Homo sapiens: one gene and its partners. The protein of the gene in region 2 interacts with the protein of the main gene of each other region in a pairwise test. Each region holds a gene or a part of one and is shown on either strand. Other genes may lie near its edges.

Region 1 (6,922 bases), on a different chromosome or scaffold from region 2:
TCGTTCTTTCAAGTAAAAATGCTACTCCATGAAATAAGCCATTCATTCACAACCCAATCTCACAAATGCTTTTCCTTCATGACAACAATCACACCTCCCTAGGCAGCATAAATGCTTTATCCATGTTTATTTAATCACAAATTCTTAAAAATTAAAAAGACATGTAGTCAAAAGCTAAGACTTAATAATAATAGGCCGGGCACGGTGGCTCATGCCTGTAATCCCAGCACTTTGGGACGCCGAGGCAGGTGGATCGCCTGAGGTCCGGAGTTCGAGACCAGCCTGGCCAACATGGCGAAACACTGTCTCTACTAAAAATACAACCAGGGAGGAAGAGATTGCAGTGAGCCGAGATAGTGCCACTGCACTCCACCCTGGGCGACAGAGCAAAACTCCGCCTCAAAAAAATAAAAATAGAATAATAAATTTTACTGCTTCAAGGGCATTCTCAAGTAGTTTGGTGCCCCTGACTTGCTTTGTGCTAAGGTACCGCCAGTAGTTTTACCCAGCCTTGCTTTTGAACCATCAGTGTATCAGTGAAAACAATAAATAGCATCTTACTATTATTTTGAAAATAGTTATGACCTTGAGGCTACCCTGAAAGGGTAAGAGGAGATCCCCATGGGTCATCTGTCCACACTTTGAGAACTGCTTTCCTACATTATACCACTAGTTCAAGATGGGAGTGGAAACTCTAACTAAATCAGGTTCGTCCCAAGAGTCCATTCTGTTACCTCCTTTAGTTTGAGATACACCACCAACACAGCTCTGGAAAAGGGAAGGAAATCAACGGCACAAGGTGTCACTTGTTTCAACATCTTGAACACTTTTATGTTAGACCAGTAATTCTCAATGTAGTGGTTACATTAATCAGTCTCAGCCCCAGGACTGCTCATTTGAAAATGTAAAGATGACAACCCCCCTCTGCTCCATTCAAATAAATTTGGGGGATGAGGCCCCCCAAATTGTACGTTTAACCACCTTCAAGTTACTTTTTATGCACCCCGAAGTTGAGAACGATTGTGCTAACAGTTCGAATTCAGAGTTCAAGCTCTCAGACCCTGAGCAATAGTGTCTCAAAATTAATCGTTTGCCAACGAGCAGCCCTCCCTGCCCCCTCCGTTTCCCTTTCCTCTAGTTGGGTAAATGCCTACAGAAGTAAAACCCGGCCGGGCGCGGTGGCTGACGCCTGTAATCCCAGCACTTTGGGAGGCCAAGGCGGGCGGATCACCTGAGGTCAGGCGTTCAAGACCAGCCTGGCCAACATGGTGAAACCTCGTCCCTACTAAAAATACAAAAATTAGCCGGGCGTGGTAGCACATGCCTGTAATCCCAGCTACTAGGAAGGCTGAGGCAGGAGAATCACTGGAACCCGGCAGGCGGAGGTTGCAGTGAGCAGAGATCGTGCCACTGCACACCAGCCTGGGCGACAAGAGTGAAACTTCGTCTCAAAAAAAAAAAAAAAAGTAAAACCCCATTTCTGTGGAGTTTTGAGCGGCGGTAAGAGGTGTCTACGGGCTTGGAAGGACGGGCTACACCGCTTGCATCAAGACGGCGGCTGCTGTGAGATAGTCCAACTGCATCTTAGTTTCCATTTCGAAAATGAGACTGGCCACTAAATGACTCTAAGGACTCATCAGCACTACCTTTTTCTGAACTAAGAATGTCTAAGACAAGTGCTACTAGCAGTTTGAGAGAATCCCACATCTGGAGAGGAAGGAAATAAGAACAACACGCAGAAAGACGGAAAACAAATAGATCAATGACAGTACTCCTTTGCAAAAGGTGCCAAGAATCTAAATAAAATAGTCCCCGGGATAAACATGGCGCCCACCGCGGCAGGACATAATCACCAGAAAATAAAGATTCCCCGCCTCATTCCATTTTATAAATCACGGCGCCATCCCAAAAGAAATTTGGGGACCGAGGGAGGAGACTTCGTAAACTAGCTGCAGTGCACTAAGGCTTAGGATGTACTATTAGACCAAGCAGAGATTACATAACACAAGGGATCGGCTCAGCAATCACTCATTTTCCTCCTCCCGCTCAAAACGAGCGCCCCACTCCTTCTCGGAGCGGGAATGGGGCGGGGAGGGCCGCGCACCCCCACCCCCAGGGGCCGCTCCGCCGCCGCCCGCCCCTCCGCCGCACGGCCTCGCCCCCTCGCCGGCCCCTCCCGCCGCGCCCCGCCGTCTCGCCACCGCCCGCGCCCCCGCCCCCGCCCCTTCCCCAGCGGGCCACCGCCCGCGCCCGCGCCGCCCACTCCTCCGAGACGCCTCGCGCCGAGCGTGCGTGTGGACGTCGGGCTGTGTGCGGGGCCGTGGGGCGCGAGTGCGCGCGCGCGCGCCGCGGCGGGCGCCGGGGGGCGGGGGCGGCCGGCCAGCCGGCAGGCAGGGACCTCCGCCGCCGGCCCTTCGCGCGGCTCCCGCGGCCCGGGGCGCACGCACACACACTCGCGCTCGCGCGCCGCACCCCGCGGCCGCCCCTGCCGCGGGCCGCGCCGCCACTCGCGGTGGGCGGGGGCGCGCACCGCCGGCCCCCCGCCCCCACCCCCGCGCGTACCGGCCCCATCCCCCTCTCATTGTCTCGCCTCTGAACGCCTCGCCGAGCGAAAAGATAACGGAACCCCCGGGAGCAGGGGGTGGGGAGAGAGAAGGCTCGCTCGCTCACTCACCTCCTGTGGTCGTCGCCGCCGGTAGTCTGACCCGAGGAAGGCGCCGTCGCCTTAAAGGGACCTTACACCCGGCGCCAGAAGGGGGTGGGAGCAGGGGGAGGGGACGGGGGCTTGGGGGGAGACGAAGAAGAGGTAACCGTTGAAAGCTCGTCTCCCCAAGGGTGAAAGGAAGCCTCCCTCGGGTTCGAGTGATTCGGGGTGGATTTTTTTCCCGAGGGGGGCGGGGGGGCCCCGAGGGAGGGGGGTGGGGGGGCCAAGGAATGCGGCTCCGTGTACGGGAGCTGGCGCGGGGGAGAGAGACGCCGACTCCCCCCACCGACCCTCTCGCCCCGCGGAGGGATACGGCTCGTCACTTCCGCCCTCCCCTTTTTCACGGCCTCCCAATTGGTCGGAGCGCGCTGCACGTCATGGGCTCATCCAAACCCCTGCCCGGGCTTCTTTTCTAGTCAAGTTTGGCTGGGCCTGCAAATAAATAAATAAAGGAAAACATTTTTTGTAATGAAAAAAGAATAATTAGCTTCAGAAGCTATATCTAAATTTTGGTGAGAAAAATGAGACTTCCAAAGAAAATATTCCCCAATTTACTTGCCAAGAGTTTCCAAGGAAGTGTTGGGAGGCTCCCCCACTTTCCACTCAAGGCTTAGACCCAGTCAAGAGGGAGACTTCATGACACAGGCCAGGTGGTGAGGCCCAGTGGCACCAACAACTGTCATTGGAACAAAGAACAAAATGGCACTCACTCTTTCTCAAGAGACACTCGGCCAAGTAACCTTGTGGCTGCGGCCTTGTTTAAGTGAAGAACTTTTAAAAGCCATTTTGATCCTCAAGCCCTTCTGGATCCTGGAAAGAAGTGGCACACGATTGTTAAAGCGATTATTGTGATGGAAACTGCTTTGCTCCCATTGTGAGTAGATTCAGCAGAGATCCCCAGTTCCAAGAAACCACACACACTCCACATCCTTATGCTTTTTGCTCCAATCAAGGCTGAGATGGGTTGGCTCAAAGAAATTGGTTAGTCCACTCAAACGACCATCCACCTGTTTATTCTTCCCCAGACAAAAACTACCTCTTTTCAGGTAGCTAAGAAATTTTGTCCTTTATTGCCTTCTGAGATTATAAAAATGTAATATTTTCCTTGAATATTTGAAAATGTTTGCTATTTAAGCAATACACAAATATTTGCTTCAAACCAAATGTGAAATCAAGGTACTTGGTGCAGAAAGGGGAAATCCAGAACTATGTTTATTTGTGCTCTTTATATACACACTCCATTCAAACCACCAGACTGAAAATAGGCAGTGGAAGTAGGCATTCCAAATTGTATGCACCTGCCCGTGTGAGTGTGCACATGTGCATACACATACACACACTGCCACCACCCAGTTTCATTCCATTTCATACCAAAACCATGTGAGTGATTTCCACTAGTGTAGGATGCTTAGGAAGGACTTCATTATTTGAATGAGAAGAATCACTAAATCCTTCTGAAAATACTTCTGAAGACTTTCCAGACCTGATCTGGAGAAGCCCATATTAGGATTATGGGATCAATCACCAAAAGACTACATGAAACTCAAATCCTATTTTATACTGTCGTGTAATTAGTATAATTCATTATATATGTTATATTTACATTATGTATATTACGTTATTAACCTTTGAAAAATTCCAACATATTTCCCCATGCCCTGTCAATTTATTCTCCCAGCCAATGAGATCTAGCGCAGACTATGCCATATACCGTTGACCAGTAACTGTTAGCATGCTTTATTGAAAATGGATCATGCATCCATTCATTCATTCAATGAATATTTATTGGGGGCTGGGCATGGTGGCTAACACCTGTAATCCCAACACTTTGGAAGGCCAAGGGAGGAGGATCACAGCAGTCTGAGGGCAGCCTGGGCAACTTAGCAACATCCCATCTCTACAAAAAAAAATTTTTTTTTTTTAAACAGAGTCTCGCTCTCTCCCCCAGGCTGGAGTGAAGTGGCGCGATCTCGGCTCACTGCAACCTCCGCCTGCTGGGTGCAATTCTCCTGCCTCAGCCTCCTGAGTAGCTGGGACTACAGGCGTGCGCCACGATGCCTGGCTAATTTTTTCTGTTTTTAGTAGAGACGGGGTTTCACCAAGCAGGCTGGTCTCGAACTCCTGACCTCGTGATCTGCCCGCCTCCGCCTCCCAAAGCGCTGGGATTACAGGCGTGAGCCACCGTGCCTGGCCCCAAAAAATTTTTTTCATTAGCTGGTTGTGGTATTCCTAGATACTTGGAAGACTTGGGAGGATCACTTGAGGCCAGGAGTTTGAGACTGCAGTGAGCTATGATGACACTACTTGCACTCTAGCCTGGGAGGGACAGAGCAAGATCCTGTCTCAAAAAAAAAAAAAAAATTATTGAGCACATGTACTAGGCACTGTTTTAGGTGCTGGGAATACAGCAGCAACAACAACAACAAATACCTGAATCTGTGGGATTTATACTCTAGAAGGAAAGAGACATAAAATATACACATAAACAAATTGTTCTATTGTCTATTGTTAAATAACAAATGACCCCGAACTTAGTGGCTTAAAACAACAATTTCATTACCTCTCATGGTTCTGGGAGGTAATTAGGCTCAGCTAAACAGTTCTCACTTGGGAGTCTCGTATGCAGTGGCTAGGGCTGAAGTAATCTCAAAAGCTTCCTTACATGTCTGGAAGTTGAGGTTGACTGTTGGCTTGGACCGCAGCTGGGGTTGTTGGCAGACCATTTACAAGTGGCTTCTCCATGTAGCCTGGGCTTCCTCATATCATAGTGGCTGAGTTCCAAGACTGAGTGCCCCAAAAGGACCAGACAGAGATCGTGACCTAGTCTCAGAGGTCATATAGTGTTACTTCCATTACAGTTACAGGATGGAGAGCATAGATCCCCATCTCTCAACGGGAATAGTGGAAATGTCACATTGTAAGAAAGTGTGCGGAAAGGGAAATCTTGTGGCCATCTTGGAAAATGCAATCTGATATACATTATGTAAATAAATATGGATTATATGAAATGGTGATAGGTGCTATGAAGGGTAAAGGGCAGGATAGGGGAATTAGGAGTGTGGTGCAGACATGGGGGTGGAGAATTTGCTATTTTATGTGGGGTGATTGGAGAAGTCCTTGTTAAGGTGACATTTGGGCAAAGACCTGAAGAAAGTGAAGCAAAGTTTAGGTTTTACCTGTAGTGAAAATGAAGCTGCTGGAGGATCATAAAGCAAGTAGTGACACGGCCTGACTCACGTTTTTAAAGGATCACTGTGGCTGCTTGTGAAGAATAACTAATAGAGGCAAGGGCAGATGCAGGGAGACCAGATAGAAGGCTATTGCAATAATCCAGGTGAGAGTTGATGGTAGCTTGGACCAGGATGGGAGTTGTGAAGCTGCTGCTTCAGGTGATTGAGTTCTGTGGTGTGTTACTTACTCCTCTCTATTTTTCTGTCATTTAGTTTGTGCCCTGGGAGACAGTTTTGACCCATAATGCCCAATAAAATGAGTGATGGTGCTATGCCTGCCACCAAGAATACAGAAAGTCTATCATGCTAAATGTAAAAGTGGGAGTTTTGCAGGATCTGGAGGCACCTTTGAGGAAATGGGTGAGGAAACAGAGGGTAAAGATCAACAGGCAATTAGGGAATGGAGTGTCTTTTGACGTTGTAAAAGGTATCCTGGCCAGGTGTGGTGGCTCATGCCTGTAATCCCAGCACTTTGGGAGGCCGAGGTGGGTGGATTACAAGATCAGGAGTTTGAGACCAGCCTGGCCAACATGGTGAAACCCCATCTCTACTAAAAATACAAAAATTAGCCAGGCGTGGTGGCACATGCCTGTAGTCCTAGCTACTCAGGAGGCTGAGGCAGGAGAATCGCTTGAACCCGGGAGGTGGAGGTTGCAGTGAGCCGAGATCACACCACATCACTCCAGCCTGGGTGACAGAGTGAGACTCCATCTCAAAGAAAAAAAAAAAAAAAGGAAATGATGAGCAAAGACATTTTATACCTTCAGAAGATTTCAAGGAAACTCTGCCACCTTACATTACAACACTGGTGCAGCACTTCAAAAGAGACTATACAGTTAACACTGCTATTTCCAGAAACGTATTCCTTGTGCTAAAGAGAGAATGCTCATATTAATTTGGACAGTGTTGGAACATTTTGCTTCTTCAGCTAAAACACAGGTTTCCAGAGTGAAGTAACAGAACTGATAGCTTTGGTCTCTCTTTTGGA
Region 2 (7,035 bases):
AAAAATTCCTGATATGAAATTATTAGTTCTGTGCTTTAAAGCAAGAACAAATAATGTAGTCAATTATTTATATGTATATGTTAAATAGATGTTCCAGGCCAGGTGCAGTGGCTCACGCCTGTAATCCCAGCACTTTGGGAGGCCGAGGCGGTTGGATCAGCTGAGCTCAGGGGTTTGAAACTAGCCTGGGCAATATGGCAAAACCCCATCTCTACAATACAAAAAATTAAGGGCCGGACATGGTGGCTCACACCTGTAATCCCAGCACTTTGGGAGCCCAAGGCAGGCGGATCACAAGGTCAGGAGTTCGAGACCAGTCAAGCCAATATGGTGAAACCCCATCTCTACTAAAAATACAAAAATTAGCTGGGCATGGTGGTGGGCGCCTGTAGTCCCAGCTACTCGGGAGGCTGAGGCAGGAGAATCACTTGAACCCAGGAGGTGGAGGTTGCAGTGAGCTGAGATCGTGCCACTGCACTGCAGCCTGGGTGACAGAGATTCTGTCTCAAAAAAAAAAAAAAAACAAAAAGAAAAAATGCTGTAGTCCCTCATCATAAGATAGACCAAGGTCCAAGAAATCAATTAGCTGATTTAACTAAGAATATACCTAAATGAAGTTTTGTCCCTCATGAAATGAAAGCTATAAGACAATTTTCATTTAATGGGCTTATACACACAAAAAATGAAATACTATAGATAAAATACTAAGTAGGCATTTAACAAAAACTAGTTCCCTCTCCTTCTTATAAAACCGTAAAGTATTTTAAAAGCAAAGTGCAAAAAGAGAACACATACCTTAAGTAAAACCTCTACTATGCTGGCATGGCCCTCAGAAGCTGCCATATGTAATGGTGTTCGGTCCACTTTGGTTCTGGCATCTCTGCTCACACCAGCTCGCAGCAGTACCTCTGTGGTGGAATAATGACCATACTGTGCTGCTAGATGAAGTGGAGAAGTTCCCAGCTGTACCACAGAAAAAAAAAAAAATCCACATTTACATTATTGTTACTACACTTCTGTTTATATAGTAAACAGATTTTCTTTACATTATCTGTTTACATAGCAACTCAAAACTCAAAAGAAATGCCTAGATTCATGCTTATCACATCCTCTTCATAGACATCTTGAAGAATTCCCAAACACTCTCAATGAAGAAGAAAATCCAGTATTTCCTTTAATTCAAACTTTCTTTCTTCATTATTTTTTATCAGATAAACTGCCTGAACAAAATTAATTTCATTAGAAATTAAGATATAGAGGCCGAACGTGGTGGCTCACGCCTGTAATCCCAGCACTTTGGGAAGCCAAGGCGGGTGGATCACTTGAGGTCAGGAATTCAAGACCACCCTGGCCAACATGGTGAAACCCCATCTCTACTAAAAATACAGAAATTAGCCAGGCGTGGTGGCATGTGCCTGTAATCCCAGCTACTCAGGAGGCTAAGGCAGGAGAATCGCTTGAACCCAGGAGGCAGAGGTTGCAGTGAGCCGAGATCGCGCCACTGCACTCCAGCCTGGGTGACACAGCGAGATTTTGGTCTAAAGAAAAAAAAAAAAAAAAGAAATCAGAGATAGAGTTTGAGAAATTTTTCTGTGTATTAGAATGTATTCCTCATACCAATCACACAAAACTTGCTAAGTTAACTTCGTCTGTAAAATTCATCTCAAATAAATGTAACAGTGTACATTTTTACTTTAAGTGGATCAAAATTGTTTTGTAGGTCTTAAAAAATTCACGTATTGAAACATCTCAGTGATCTTTTTAAAGGGATTTTTTTCAAAGGAAAAATCTTAGGTGCATTTGCCAAAGTTGAATCAGGACAAAACCAAAACAGAGCCCAATTCTCCTGAAATTGGTTCCATGTGGTCTAGTCATTAAATTGACATCCACAATACACAGAGGGAGTACTAAAATGTGAGGGAAGGAAGATTAAGTTCTATCACATGCATTTAAAGGCACAGAAAATCCCTATAACCCTCTGATTACCACATCACTTGATATTCCAAAGAACTAAGATATTTGGACTAAGGAAATTTACACATATAAACAGTTTATTATGTTATGAAGAGATTAAGTGAGATATATGTATAAAGGTCCTTAGTCCTATCTCTCTATCTATCTATCTATAGATAGAGAGATAGATATATTTTTTGTTTGTTTGTTTGTTTAATTGTTGTTTGTTTAATTAGAGACAGGGCCTCACTGTGTTGCCCAGGCTGGGGTGCAATGGATATTCATAGGTACAATTATCACACACTACAGCTTTGAACTGCTGGGCTCAAGCAATCTGTCCACCTCAGCCTCCAGAGTAGCTGGGACTACAGGCACACACCAACAAACCCAGCTAAACCTTACATTTTTAAGAGAAGGTCATCCCAGCAGATCAAAGAAGATCCTTAAACAATCCTTTCTTTCTCCATGCTTTGTCAATTTTTCTTTAACTAGCCTTTTCTATACTCTTAAATTTCAGTATTTAATGAAAATATCTCAACAGCCCATTTAGCAACCAGGAGCTTTGCTCAGTTTGACATTAGGATCTACTTTTTTATTTTTGTCTTCTGAGACTTTCCCTTCTTGGTTATTGACACAAAATATATATACATATATGCAGGGTTTTTTGTTTTTTTCTGAGACAGGGTCTCACTCTGTCACTCAGGCTGGAGTCCAATGGGGTGATCACAGCTCACTGTACCTTCAAACTTCTGAGCTCAAGCGATCCTCCTCCCTCAGCCTCCCGAAGTGCTGGGATTATGGATATGAGCCACCACACCTGGCCATGTAGTTTTTGTAGCTTTTTGGGTTTTTTTTTATTCATTTTTTTAGAGTCAGCTTCTTGCTCTGTCGCCCAGGCTAGAATGCAGTGGAGCTATCGTAGCTCACTGTAACCTCTAACTCCTAGGCTCAAGCAATCCTCCCATCTCAGCCTCCAGAGTAGCTAGGACTACAGGCTGAGCCACCATGCCTGACTAATTTTTTTCTTTTTGTTTGAGATGGGGTCTATGTTGCCCATGCTGGTCTTGAACTTCTGGCCTCAAATAATCTGCCACCTCAGTCTCCCAAAGTGCTGGGATTACAAGCGTAAGCCACTGTGCTCAGCCAATATATGTAGTTTAAGGCAAACACCTGTGAATCAACACCATAGTCTAGAAATAAAACACTGCCAGTAATTTAAAATCTGGCCAGGCGCAGTGGCTCACGCCTGTAATCCCAACACTTTGGGTGGCCAAGGCAGGTGGATTGCCTGAGGTCAGGAGTTCGAGACCAGCCTGGCCAACATGGTGAAACCTCATCTACTAAAAATAAAAAATTAGCTGGGTGTGAGGGTGGGCGCCTGTTATCCCAGCTACTTCGGTGCCTGAGGCAGGAGAATCACTTGAACCCGGGAGGCAGAGGCTTCAGTGAGCCAAGATCATGCCACTGCACTCCAGCCTGGGCAACAGAGCGAAACTCTGTCTCAAAAAAAAAAAAAAAAAAATCTTCCCACATGCCACTCCCTGATCACAAGCCCCTCCCCCAGCCCCAGAGGTAACTAATATTTTGAATTTTGTGACAAGCATTACTTAGTTTTCTTTGTATCACTTATCCCTAAAAAATATACTTTGGTTTTGCCTGTTTTGAGTTTTATTTAAACAGAATTATACTGCATGTATTTCTCTGTGACTTGCCTTCTTTTGCTTGACACTGTATTCATGAGATTCACCATGTTAATAACTGTAAGTATAGCTTACTAATTTTCTGTGTTCTATAATATTCCATTGAATGAGTAAACCACAATTAATTTAACCAATCTACTGATGAACATTTAGATTGTTTCCAGTTTTTGTGTTATTATGAATAATGTTGCTGCTAAATACAGTAGTCTTGTATATGTTTCAGGCACATGAACAAGTCTTCTCTCGGGAATAGTCTTAGAAGCCCAACTGCTACATCATATACTATGCACATCTCCAAATTTACTATGTGCTGCCAAACTGTCTTCCATAACGATTATACCAATTCCATACTTCCACCAAAAATATTTGAGAGTTCCCACCATCTCCTCACCAAGCCTTGGTACTGCTCAACTGTTTTTGCTAATCTGGTGGATATATAATAGTATTTCATGATTTTACTTTGCATTTGCCCCAATTTTAATGTAGTTGAGTATCTTTTCATGTTTATTGATCAAACTTTCTCCTTGGTAAAGCACCATATCCAGTCAGTCTTCTATTGCCTTGTCTTTTTATTGCTAACCCATGGGAATTCCTTATGTATTATGGATACTAATCCTTCTTAAGATCTTTCTGTCTTTGGGAGGCCGAGGCGGGCTGATCACGGGGTCAGGAGTTCAAGACCAGCTGGCCAACATATTGAAACCCCATCTCTACTAAAAATACAAAACATTAGCTGGGCTTGGTGGTGGGTGCCTGTAATCTCAGCTACTTGGGAGGCTGAGGCAGGAGAATCACTTGAACCCGGCAGGCGGAGGTTGCAGTGAGCCGAGACTGAACCATTGCACTCCAGCCCAGGCAACAGTGTGAGACTCCATCTCAAAAAAAAAAAAAAAGATCTTTTTGTCTTGAGGTACTACAGCATCACTATGATATATCTAGATATAGATTAGTTTTTAAATTGATCCTGCTGGAGATTTGTTAGGCTACTCAAATCTGTGGGCTGCCATCTTTCATCAGTTCTGGAAAATTCTCAGCAATTACCTCTTTGAATTATTTCATCCCTATTTTTGCTCTTTTTGTGGATCTATGATCAGATGTTAGACTTTCTCACATGATCCTTCATGATTCCTAACATCTCTTTTACATTTTCTATCTATTTTTATCTGTGACATAGTCTGGATCATTTTTTTTTTCATACCTTTCAGTTTACTAATTTTCTCTTTAGCTGTTTCTAATCTGTTACTAAAATTTTATCTCAAGTCCTTATAGGTCTGCTTCTGTTGACAGTTGTTTTAGCAGATTACTGTCCAAATTGGCATGTGTTCATGTGTTTAGTTATTTCTGACTGCTCACTTTCCTTTGAATTTCATTTGTGGATATGAAGCCTGGGATGAAGGCAGGTTCCTCCAGAGCAGATATTCATTTGCTTCTGTCAAGAGCCTGGGGTAATCCCTAGTCCAAAGATCACTTCAAATTCATTTCTCAGTTTACAGTTTTTTAGACTACACAAGTATTTATGAGTTCAGGCTGCAAGTGTGTAAAAAGGATGCCTTGTGATTCCAAATTCTCACCATCAGATTGTTTTCCTCTCTCCATTTGATGTCTTGGTTCACATCAGCTTATTATCTTTGCAGCATCACGGCAACAGGGGCAAGGGCAGGAGCAGACAGGAGGAGGGACAGGGTATTCCTGCTTTATCCCTACACTGAAGGTGCAGCTCTTTGGGATTCCAGAATTATGAGATAAGATCTCCTATCAGACTTCTCTCCATGAACACTCTCAGGTCTTTAGCTTTAGTACCCCAAGCCAGTGAGGTGGAAAAACCACCAGACAAGTGTGAGTTCACCTAATGTTCTTTAGGGTAAAATTTCTCTGGGTTCTTGCCTTCACTTAGTTTTTCAGGTTGATAATCTCTTTCTTTCTAATTCAGCAGTGTACTTAAGAAGACTTTCTTTAAAATATTTCATCAAAAAGTCTTTATTCTTTAAAGATTTATTTATTCTTTAAAGAAACATTTATGGATAAAATGATATGGTCCCTGGAATTTGCTTTAAAATAATACAGAACAAAAAATAATACAGTAGACAGAGTTATAGAGGAAACAATATTCATCATGATTTGATAATTTTTGAAGTTGGGTAAAGGGTATTACAGGGATATCGTTGATATATATTTGAAATTTTCTATAATAAAAAATTTTGTTTTTTCATGAAAAATGTAAAAAGAGAAAGAAAGGCAAAAACGGCAAAATCAAAAATCTGGAATTTTTAGTTGTTACCAATGGGCAGGTTAATTCAGATTCCTAGCATTCCATATCCACAAGACAATACTTTTTTATTTGCCCCCAGAATTAAAGAGTTATTTTTTTTTGCCTTCCCCACAACTACCTTCTTTCCATAGTTGTCAAGATCTCATTCCCATTCCTTTCTTCCTCTTTCGTCATGTCTGCAACAGTTTTACAAGTAATAATTGAAACATAAACTTGTTTTTCTTTTAGGAGTGACTATTAACACTAACTCCAATCTTTATCAGTATCTTTCTGAATTATAAATTCTACCTGTGCTATTTATAAGGCCTTTAAATTAAATCCCAAGCAGATACATTTTTATATTCATGCCACATTAATGCACTCCACAGTTTGAAAGAAAAACTCTTTGTGGATGAAATATTTGGATAAGGTTGTCCAATATCAAAGAAAATAATATAAACCACTTCTTTTAGGACAGTTATAATTCTAAAATAATAAACACATTTGCAAAAATAATAACTTTTTACCACTTATAAACACAATACTGACTACATTTTTCTCTGCAAAAACTCAAAAATGAGAAGGAAAAAGAACACACAATATTAAAATCATTCTTTACCCAGTCTGTAGTAAAGGGAGCTCCATTTGCCATCAAAATACGAACTTCATCATCTTGACCTGCTCGTGCCGCTTCTAAAAGCTTCTTTCCCAAATCTACCAGGGACATCTAAACAAAACATAGATGAACTGAACATCAAAATCTCCATTTATACACTATGACATGACATTTTCCCTTCCTGTCTTTATTAATAAGTCAGTTCTCAATTATCCCTTCAAAAGAGTGTGCTATGGTTAATTTAAAATTACAGATCATACAAAAGCAATTTATATTTGGATTTTAGAATCCATTTTCCTTTCTCATTAAGTTTTTACTTAGAATAAAAGTAGTTTAAATTCTCCAAATACATCTGGTAAAAGATAGAAGAGGTAAGTAGCAGAGAAAAGCTGGCCTAAATTTTTATTTATTTATTTTTTTCTTGACACAGAGTCTCGGCCTGTCACCCAGGCTGGAGTGCAGTGGCACGATGTTGGCTCACTGCAACCTCCGCCTCCTGGGTTCATGTGATTCTCCTG
Region 3 (3,972 bases), on a different chromosome or scaffold from region 2:
TAATCTGCCTGCCTTGGCCTCCCGAAGTGCTGGGATTACCGAGGCCCGGCCCAAGTATTGAACTCTAATACCAGATGTCAGGGATCACGCTGGGCACTGGAGAAATTAAAAAAAAAAAAAAAAAAGGAATGGGGCTGGACGCGGTGGCTCACGCCTGAAATCCTAGCACTTTGGGAGCCCAAGGCGGGCGGATTACCTGAGGTCTGTTTGAGACCAGCCTGGCCATGAACATGGTAAACCCCTACTCTACTAAAAATACAAAAAATTAGCTGGGTGTGGTGGCATACACCTGTAATCCCAGCTACTCTGGAAGCTGAGACAGGAGAATCGTTTGAACCTGGGAGGCAGAGGATGCAGTGAGTGGAGATAGTGCCATTGCACTCCAGCCTGGGCAACAAGAGCCAAACTGTCTCAAATAAAAAAGAAAAAAAAAGTTAAATACTTGGATGAATAAAAGCAGTTAATGACAACGTGGTGAGGCTATTCTGTTAATTAATGGAATAAGAAATACTAGGGATAATGAAAAGATGTTTGATGTTTATTTCCACCTTGCACTCAGGTCTGAGCCACAAGTACATTAAGACATTGAATGGTATCACCCAGGGAATACGTAACCAGACAACACACAAGACTGAGATGCACAAGTGGTGGTGGTGGTAATTCACGCAGAAGGAACCAGACAGTAAAACAAAAATTGCCCAACACACCAAATGATCAAATCCGCCACCTCTAGGATAGGCAAACTTGATTGCTGGGTTAAGAACCCTAGAGGTCTGTTAAGGTGGGCAGAGAAGGGGTTTTCTCAGCTTAGATTGTCCTGACATCTAACTGCCAGCAAGCACTGTACATATAATTTCCTGAGAAACCAAGTCCTTAGTGGGAAGGGTATCCCTTTGACCAGATCTTATGGCTTAAATTGGTCAGGTTTGCAAAACCTCAAAGCCTCCATAACCAAAGCTAGGGAGAGGCTCTATATGCTACAAGCAGTACCTCCTCACTGCAGGTAGTCTGCGCCTTAACCCTCTGCAGGGAGACTGACTGTAGCACCAAGTACCTGGCTTTTTAGACTCTACATAGGAATTCCACCATAATTAAGATGTATAAACTTGACCTACAGCCTAAAGCCCAATATGCTTCCCTCAAGAACATCAACAGTGTTCAAGCTTAGCTTTGTTACAGAAAATGAGGTAGGGTGCGGTGGCTCACATCTGTAATCTCAGCAGTTTGGGAGGCCAAGGCAGGCGCATCAGCTGAGGTCAAGAGTTTGAGACCAGCCTGGTCAAAATGATGAAACCCCATCTATACTAAAAATACAAAAATTAGCTGGGCATGGTGGCACACGCCCATTATCCCAGCTACTCAGGAGGCTGAGGCACTAGAATCACTTGAACCCAGGAGGCGGAGGCTGCAGTGAGCTGAGATCACGCCACTGCATTCCAGGGGAAAAAAAAAAAAAAAAAACCGCAACAGATGTCTCAATTTTTGACATTAGTCATCTTGAAGAACACCTCTAAATGCATGAACTCACTGCAGACTGACCCAACCTCTTAATTCTGGCTCCTTGCTTTTCCTGCCTCTGCCTACCTTTGAGACACAAGATCTGTGAACACCCAGGCTGTACAGTGGCATGATAATAGCTCACTCTAGGCTCAAGCAATCCTCCCACGTCAGCCTCCAGATCAGCTAGGACTAGGCATGCACCACCAGGCCAGGCTAATTATTTTTTGTAGAGACAGCGTCTCACTATGTTGCCCAGGCTGATCTTGACTCCTACCCTCAGGTGGTCTTCTGCCTCAGGTAATACATTACAGACAGTGAGCCACCATGCCCAGTTGCTGCCTACATTTTCAATATTCCACTCAACAAACATTGACACTTCCTGGGACTGGAAAGTAAAAAAAATCTAAGTACTGTGTAGAATTAAGCAAACAAGTGATGTTTCAGAAGTAACCCATTACTGCTTAAAATAAAGCCTACATCAACACTCTTAACTCAAACGAGGACAATTGTTATTTAGTTTTTATTTCATAATCATAAACTTAACTCTGCAATCCAGCTAGGCATGGGAGGGAACAAGGAAAACATGGAACCCAAAGGGAACTGCAGCGAGAGCACAAAGATTCTAGGATACTGCGAGCAAATGGGGTGGAGGGGTGCTCTCCTGAGCTACAGAAGGAATGATCTGGTGGTTAAGATAAAACACAAGTCAAACTTATTCGAGTTGTCCACAGTCAGCAATGGTGATCTTCTTGCTGGTCTTGCCATTCCTGGACCCAAAGCGCTCCATGGCCTCCACAATATTCATGCCTTCTTTCACTTTGCCAAACACCACATGCTTGCCATCCAACCTTGAAAAGGAAGAACAATCACTATGACTGGCAACCACAAACAAGCAGCCTCCATGTGTCATGAACCAAGACGAGAAAGGTAGCTTTTTTTTTTTTTTTTAACTGAAGCCTTTTGTACTAAATGTCATTAAACATGATTCTCCAATTACCATTAAAGAGTTACACATATAGGCCGGGTGCGGTGGCTCACGCCTGTAATCCCAGCACTTTGGGAGGCCAAGGCGGGCGGATCACGAGGTCAGGAGATCGAGACCATCCTGGCTAACACGGTGAAACCCTGTCTCTACTAAAAATACAAAAAATTAGCCGGGCATGGTGGCGTGTGCCTATAGTCCCAGCTACTCGGGAGGCTGAGGCAGGAGAATGGCGTGAACCTGGGAGGCGGAGCTTGCAGTGAGCCGAGATCGCGCCACTGCACTCCAGCCTGGGCGACAGAGCGAAACTCCATCTCAAAAAAGAGTTACACATATAGAATGAATTGCGCCCCCCTCCCCCAAAAACAAACAAAACAAAACAAAAACCCCAAAGAAACAAAAAACCCAACCAACCGCATGTTATTAATAGTAACATAAAAGCAGCACTTAATTGGGTGGGCACAGTGGCTCATGCCTGTAATCCCAGCACTTTGGGGGGGTCAAGGCAGGCAGATCACTTGAGCCCAGGAGTTCGAGACCAGCCTGGACAACATGGTAAATCCCGCTCTACTAATAATACACAATTTAGCTGGGAGTGGTGGTGCATGCCTGTAGTTCCAGCTACTTGAGAGGCTGAGGCAGAAGAATTGCTTGAACCCGGGAGGAGGTTGCAGTGAGCTGAGATGGCACCACTGCACTCCAACCTGGGAGATAAGAGCGAGATCCAGTCTGAGAAAAGAAAAAAAAAAAAAAAGCACTTAATTGGTTGGGCGCAGTGGCTCATGCCTGAAATCCCAGCACTTTGGGGGGCCAAGGCAGGTGGTTCACCTTAAGTCACGAGTTCAAGACCAGCTTGGCCAACATGATGAAACCCCGTCTCCACAAAAATACAAAAAATTAGCCAGGCATGCTGGCACACATCTGTATTCTCAGCTACTCAGGAGGCCAAGGCAGGAGAATCGCTTGAACCCAGGAGGCAGAGGTTGCAGTGAGCCCAGATTGTGCCACTGCACTCCAACCTGGCAACAGAGCAAAACTCCATCTCAAAAAAGTAGCACCTAATTCAACCACCCAGCTAAGGGCCAAGTTTCTATCATAGTATCTGACATTCTGTATCACATTGGCTATATTTGTCGTTTATGTATGCTCTTCTTCTAGTATCTTAGGGATGAAAAAGTCTGTGGAAGCAAAGGTTGAAGAAAAGTAGTGTTTGTTCCGTTCCCCCCAGGGCAACTTTTCATTTAGTCAGGTGGTTAGTGTGCCATGTTGTACCCTTACCACTCAGTCTTGGCAGTGCAGATGAAAAACTGGGAACCATTTGTGTTGGGTCCAGCATTTGCCATGGACAAGATGCCAGGACCCGTATGCTTTAGGATGAAGTTCTCATCTTCAAATTTCTCCCCATAGATGGACTTGCCACCAGTGCCATTATGGCGTGTGAAGTCACCACCCTGTCAACATATAGGAAAAATGTCACTTCTGACAACATA

What was found. The genes of interacting proteins can lie anywhere in the genome.
Region 1: the proteins of GABPB1 (region 2) and POGZ interact in binary tests that used the Homo sapiens proteins (3 or more experiments, as listed by UniProt).
Region 3: the proteins of GABPB1 (region 2) and PPIA interact in binary tests that used the Homo sapiens proteins (3 or more experiments, as listed by UniProt).

Annotation. Positions count from the first base shown.
Region 1 is NC_000001.11:151,456,478-151,463,399, forward strand, and holds the start of POGZ (pogo transposable element with ZNF domain), read right to left. Parts: upstream 3,018-6,922; 5' UTR 2,675-3,017; exon of another isoform or gene 2,583-2,674; coding exon of another isoform or gene 2,563-2,582; intron 1-2,562. UniProt on the Homo sapiens protein: Plays a role in mitotic cell cycle progression and is involved in kinetochore assembly and mitotic sister chromatid cohesion.
Region 2 is NC_000015.10:50,303,171-50,310,205, forward strand, and holds part of GABPB1 (GA-binding protein subunit beta-1 isoform beta 2), read right to left. Parts: intron 6,629-7,035; coding exon 6,521-6,628; intron 964-6,520; coding exon 796-963; intron 1-795.
Region 3 is NC_000007.14:44,799,663-44,803,634, reverse strand, and holds the end of PPIA (peptidyl-prolyl cis-trans isomerase A), read right to left. Parts: intron 3,934-3,972; coding exon 3,761-3,933; intron 2,349-3,760; coding exon 2,213-2,348; 3' UTR 518-2,212; downstream 1-517. UniProt on the Homo sapiens protein: Catalyzes the cis-trans isomerization of proline imidic peptide bonds in oligopeptides.